Linked DNA regions of Homo sapiens. The protein of the gene in region 2 purifies or fractionates together with the protein of the main gene of each other region. This does not show direct contact. Each region holds a gene or a part of one and is shown on either strand. Other genes may lie near its edges. The genes, in order: BEND3 and DENND5A.

What was found.
Region 1: the proteins of DENND5A (region 2) and BEND3 purify together in Homo sapiens (affinity purification with mass spectrometry; one large-scale study listed by BioGRID and IntAct). This does not show direct contact.

What each region holds. Positions count from the first base shown.
Region 1 is NC_000006.12:107,101,966-107,105,785, forward strand, and holds part of BEND3 (BEN domain-containing protein 3), read right to left. Parts: intron 1-3,820. UniProt on the Homo sapiens protein: Transcriptional repressor which associates with the NoRC (nucleolar remodeling complex) complex and plays a key role in repressing rDNA transcription.
Region 2 is NC_000011.10:9,138,011-9,140,843, forward strand, and holds the end of DENND5A (DENN domain-containing protein 5A), read right to left. Parts: intron 1,845-2,833; coding exon 1,661-1,844; 3' UTR 815-1,660; downstream 1-814.

The DNA.
Region 1 (3,820 bases), on a different chromosome or scaffold from region 2:
CAAATTACATTTGGCAGAGAAAAGGCAGAGAGGGAGGAGACAGCGGTTGGTTTATTTGGGGAGGAAAAGGGTCATGGTGAAAGAAAAATTGCAAAGAGTCAAAGATTCTGGTAAGTGGAAAGCACTAAAAGGATGGGCAAATACTAGAACAAAACAAAACAGGCGTCGATGAGAGAACACAGCAGACAGGGCCATGGGTGGTGAGAAGGGCAGTCTATTTATCTGCCATTATATTCGCCCAACCATGTGTCTCTGGCAGGCCCATCACATAGGGAGCAGTGCAGGGCTGGAGTCCAGGCTGCCACATGGAGCCTGCCGGGAATGTGGCTTGGTGAGCAGAAAACCTATTTTCTGATTTTTTATTTTTCCTTGTTTCCAGTGGGGTTGGAAGGAGGCTATTTTCTGAACCACCACCATGTGACCCTACAGCAGGCAATTTGGCCTCTGAATTTTGAGCCCCTATAAAGTGATGAAGGAAGAGCACACATCTCAGCCACCTGCAGTGGGCAGAAACCCCAGAGGGCTCATGCAGCTGAGGTGGGAGGAAGGGGTGCTGGTGCGGCTGCCTGGGCATTCAAGACACCGAGTGCTTGTGCTTTGGAAAACACTTCCGTGTCCATTTATAGACTAGTGACAGATGCTAGGTTAGCCCAGAAGTAGCCCAGAACACAGCATGGTGGGCCCCTTCCCTCCGGGCCAGCAAATCAGCTTCACTCATTAAGAAGCTGGGGAATCTCCCATTTGCAAGGCCTGGAAACCTCGCGCCTGCCCCTGGCTTGCGCAGTGGGGAGTGAGGTGAGCATCCCCTGTAACATCTGCAGCCCACCAACTTCACACCAGGCACTGGGCTGGCCACTGCATGTGTGCCTGTGCCTCACCCTGAGCTATTTTAGTTCCAATTTCAACAAATAGAGAAACCCAGGACAGGTAACTCCTCCAGTGTCACATCACTGAGTGGCAGAACCTGGCTTCAAATCGAGTCTTTCTGTGCCTTCCCTCAGCCAGCCAGGGAGGAAATAATAGAGTCTTCATTCTTTTGTTAAGCTTCTTCTGATGAACCATGGGCCTGTTTCCAAATTTGAGTCCCTCTGTCCAACAGCACCAGGAAACCACATCTCCTTCTGCCTCCATTAGCACTCTGGAAAGTCAGTCTGCTCCGTGCGTAGAAACAGACTCCACCCCACAATACAGAAAAGCTTCTACAAGAGAGATGTGTAGGCCACTCCCTGCATCCCCAGCTGGCGCAGGGACAGCACACCAACAATGTCACAGCTGGGCAGAAAGGGGATGGGGAGCACACTGCTACCTCCATTTCCTGGTCACCTGCCCAGATGAGGGTCACAAGCTCTGCTCCTCCTGGGTGGACACCCAGCACCCAGATGCCTAGCATGCCACAGACATTCCTCTCGCCTACCTGACTATAGGCTACGTAGGCGCTGCCACAACTACCCAACCACCACAGCACCCACCTCCTAAAGGCTGCTGTGAGCATTCCCTTTGCCTCCTGGACTCTGGAGAACTTCTCATTCTGACATTCTCTCATTTTCAAAATGTTCTCATGCCTCCCACCATAAACCTCAAATTATGGGACAGTCAACACATCCACACGTTCCCCAAAATCAACTTTCTCCCCAAGGGATGTCTGTTCTATGTCCCTCAGACAGCTGAGCTAAGCCTAGGAAAAAAGAAAAAGAAAAAAGAGGCCAGGCACGGTGGCACACGCCTGTAATCCCAGGACTTTGGGAGGCCAAGGCGGGCGGATCACCTGAGGATGGGAGTTGGAGACCAGCCTGACCAACATGCAGAAACCCCATCTCTACTAAAAATACAAAATTAGCTGGGCATGGTGGCGCGTGCCTGTAATCCCAGCTACTCAGGAGGCTGAGGCAGGAGAATCGCTTGAATCCGGGAGGCGGAGGTTGTGAGGAGCCGAGATCGCGCCATTCAACGCCAGGCTAGGCAACAAGAGCGAAACTCCGTCTCAAAAAAAAAAAAAAGAAAGAAAGAAAGAAAGAAAGAAAGAAAAAACAAAGAAAAAAGAGAAGGCCGGGCGTGGTAGCTCACACCTGTAACCCCAGCACTTTGGAGGCGGGCAGATCACGAGGTCAGGAGATGGAGACCATCCTGGCTAACACGGTGAAACCCCATCTCTACTAAAAAAAATACAAAAAAAAATTAGCCAGGCGTGGTGGCGGGCGCCCATAGTCCCAGCTACTCGGGAGGCTGAGGCAGGAGAATGGCATGAACCCAGGAGGCAGAGCCTGCAGTGAGCCGAGATCGCGCCACTGCACTCCAGCCTGGGCGACAGAGCGAGACTCCGTCTCAAAAAAAAAAAAAAAAAAAGGAAGAACCACATCACAAAGAGATAGGCTGGAAAGAGTTACACACTACAGGACACTTCATCTTTTTAGTGTTCATTTTAAGAGGGAAGATACATAATGTGGCTTTTCCCCATTTTTTACCAGGTAATATAGTCATGCCTTAGTATCCTCAGGGGGTTGGTTCCAAGACTCCCAGTGACACCCAAATCCACAGATGTTCAAGTCCCTGATAAAAAATAGCATAATATTTGCATGTAACCTGTGTACATCCTCCTGTATACTTTAAATCACCTCCAGATTACTTATAATAATACAATGTAAGTGGTATATAAATAGTGGTTATAGTGTATAGTTTTTTCGTGGTGTAATTTTTTACTGGTTTTTCTTTTGGATTTTTTTTTTTTTTAAGATGGGTTCTGTCACCCAGGCTGCAGTGCAGTGGTATGATCGTGTCTTACTGCAGCCTTAACCTCCTGGACTCAAGCCATCCTCCCACCTCAGCCTCCCAAGCAGCTGGGACCACAGGCATGCGCCACCACATACAGCTAGTTTTTTATTTTGTAGAGACGGGCCTCCCTACGTTGCCCAAGCTGGTCTCAAACTCTGGGGCTCAAGCAATCCACCCACCTCGACCTCCCAAAGTGCTGGGATTAGAGGTGTGAGCCACTGTGTCCAGCTCCAGCTTCTGGAATATTTTCTACCTGCAGTTGGATGAACCTGCAGATGTGGCGGGGCTGACTGTACATGCACACAGAACAAAAATCAGCAAGCATGAAAGGATATTTGGTTAAAAAGTCCACTGTTGGCTGGGCGCAGTGGCTCACACCCGTAATCCCAGCATTTTGGGAGGCCAAGCCAGGTGGATCACGAGGTCAAGAGATGGAGCCCATCCTGGCCAACGTGGTGAAACCCCATCTCTACTAAAAATACAAAAATTAGCTGGGCGTGGAGGCACCCACCTGTAGTCCCAGCTACTCCGGAGGCTGAGGCAGGAGAATCGCTTGAACCTGGGAGACAGAGGTTGCAGTGAGCCGAGATCGCGCCACTGCACTCCAGTCTGGGAGACAGAGAAAGACTCTGTCTCAAAAAAGAAAAAAAAAAAAAAAAAGAACTGGGATGGGAGATGACATGGTCTTCTAAGCAGGGGGCGGTTGATCAGGATCACTGGCCTTTTCCCTGTCCAGCCCATAGATTTCCAAAAGGACATTCTCTAGTGAACCCATAGGCGGCTGGGAGTGGCCCGGGGTACCTTTCTATCAAGTTCTTTGAATAGTCAGTTGCTGTGGAGAGAGCAGACAGACCAGGTCTTTTGGGACAGCAGCGTGAGCCTAATCAGAGCTGCCAGAGGCCTGTGGGCCGGGGAGTCACACAGGACAAGCGGCAGGCCCAGAAATGGGAAGTACTTGGGCTTCCTGCAACCTGGAGGTTCAAATTCCAGCCAGCTGACTCCGGATTTTACCCTGCTAGATCAGAGATGTCCTCGCCACTGTGCTGAGGTG
Region 2 (2,833 bases):
GACAGGCAAGAGATCCCCCTTTTCCCTCTGGGAGCTCACGGTGCAAGGGCTGAGCCTGACACGAAAGCAGGCAATGACAATCCAGAGAGGAGATGCCAGCATCTAAGAAAATGAAGGAGCACAAGGATGGAATGATTAACTGCCTAGGGAGATTGGGGACACTTCACAGCAGGTGACTGCTAAAGTAAACCCTGTACAACAAACACAAAGTGGGTGAAGGGGAGGCATTCCAGGCAAAGGGAAAATGCATGCAAACCAGGAAAGCATAAAAGAGGGCACTGATTGGTCTGAGGTGCCTGACTTGATCACGTTACACTTCTTCTGGAGCTTCCTGCCAAAGCAGCCTGAAGAATAAAAATGAACGAAGCTGGACCTCTCATAAAGGTCTCCCACCTGCCATCCCCAGGAAAGCAAACCTTTCTTTCAAGAGCTTCCCCCGACCCCCAGCTTCCCACACCTGGTCTCCCTTACCCTCTCAAGAAAGGGCCCATCCTGTCTCAGTCAAGTGACAACCTCTGCACCCCTGGCCGGGTCTTTTCCCTCCTGTGTCTCAGTCTCCTCCTCTGTGGAGTGGGGAAAGAACCCTGTCTGCATCCATGTGAATCAGCCACATAACAGCTAGGAAGGCTCCTAGCACTGCGGGCAGAAGGACCCAGGAGACCCCAGGCCCTCAGGGGCATCCTGGGCAGGCCACAACCCCGAGCCTGCTGGTAAAGAGAGGTGATGCCACAAGACCATCCTCACAGATGGACCCAACTGCACCCGCAGCCACCCACTGCTCATAAACCTCCATAAAAATCAGTGATCCATGCAGTTTTTGTTTCAGGTGTTTTATTAAGTGGGCCATACTGTAGCTGGTTTCTAAGTTGCAAAACATAAATTTAATAATAATAACATAGCCAGTTAGATTGTGACAAGCTTTTCCTTTCCTTAAAAAAAGAAAATACTTAAAAACACACAATGGCGGGTTAAATAAATAAAACATTTTAAAAAAGAAAAAAGAAAAGAAAAACCTGTTAAAACATGCTTATGTTTACTTCTGTGAAACTGTGCCAACAGGAAATGTGGTATTTGGCACGATGACACATCCCGGCATGTCTCCTTCCCAAACAATACTGACAAAAAAGAAAATACGTGGGACTGACTCATCGGTGCTTGCTTAGAGGCACTACTAAAAATCCCTTTGATTGGAGCATGGGGCTTCCCGCGCAGCACACCTGTGTGTGGCCTATGAAAGCCAAATATCCATAATAATGTTAATATAGAAAAACATTAGTTTAAAAATGATGTGGAAGGGCCTCATTAATGCGACGGGGCAAGGAAACATAACTGTCCCGCACGCAGTGCCACAGGCTCAGTCCAGGGAGGCCTCAGGCTTCCAGCATGTGGCCACGGCGAGGGAGGGCACCAGCTTCAAAATAAGCGGCACCAGCCTCGCTCCCTCTCCCTATCACTCTTTCACATGAAAGTGTGTAAAAAGCAAATCAGCAAATAAACTCTAAAATAGATTATTTATTCCAAAAATCCTCTAGTTTTCTTTTTACAGTGAGTGTACATTTTGTCTCCTACTCCTGCACAATCGCTTAAGTCCCTTTGGGAAAAAAGGTCAGAGCTGCAGGGTGAGTCTTTCTCAGTCCTGCTGCTGGCTGGTGCTGGGAGGTCAGATGTCGATGCCCTTGACAAGGGACGTCTCCAGCGTGATGTTGAACTCCTGCAATGTCTGCAGCACACGAATCAAGGAATTGACAAGTGTATGGTCTTTGATCAGTGCCACATCCTCATACATGTGTGCAGTGATGGGGCAGTCAGCCAGCAGGGCAATCCAGTGGTGTAGGAGGTGATCTCTGGCAGAGCGGGAGCAGTCCAGGCAGGTCAGAGGGGCAAAGGAAAAGGAAGAGAGAGCGTTAGTGCAAGGCCAAGGGGGAAACCATGAACTAAGTCTGAAGCTGGAGAAGCTGACAGCCCCCCACACCCCCCTTTCCCAAACAGGGACTGGCAAAGAGGTCTTTCAGCTCCAGGACACCAAACAAACCTGACCCAAATCAGCCCTGTCATGAGCCTCCAAGCCTCCTCCTCCCCTGCCTCCCTCGCCCTGCCTAGTCAGCCCCACCACTGGTGTCTCCCAGAGCTTCTCTCCTCCCACAGCTACCACCACCAGGAATAATAATAAGCACTAACCTCACATAACACTCAGCATGTGCTGGCACTGACATAAGAGATTTAATCTTCATGATAACCCTGTGATATGAGGTAGGTACTATTATTATCCCCACTTTATAGATGAAGAAAGTAGGGTAGATGGAAGTTAAGTAGCTTGTCCAAGATCACATGGCTAGTAAATGGATAACTTGAGATCTGAACCTAGTGAATGCGGTTCTGGAGTCTGTTTTTAACCACTATGCCAATTCTCTCCCTTTATGCAGCCTGAATAAACTGCCTTAAGTTTATTTGAGCTTCATGCTCTCTCACCTGACCTACAGGAATAGCCCCTAATAATCATGTCCACTCTAATGCATACCACCCATAATATCAGATTAATATTACTTCAGTCCCCTGATGAAACAACTTTGTACTAATATGAAAAGAATCTTTCTCTGTCCCAGCTCAGGGGCCCTACCCTCCTTTCAACTGTGTTTCCTATTACTGCCCTTGCCACGTTCTGTTATTTCCTTCCATTAAAGGCTCACTTAAATACCAACTCCTCCCTGAAGTCTTCTCTGATCTTTCTCCTCTACCTTTTCAGCATATTGTATGAATGTACACTTCATTTTTGGACCCTCAAAACCTTCTTCCATGCTCTGTATTTAATTAGGACAAGTAAGCTTCTAAATGT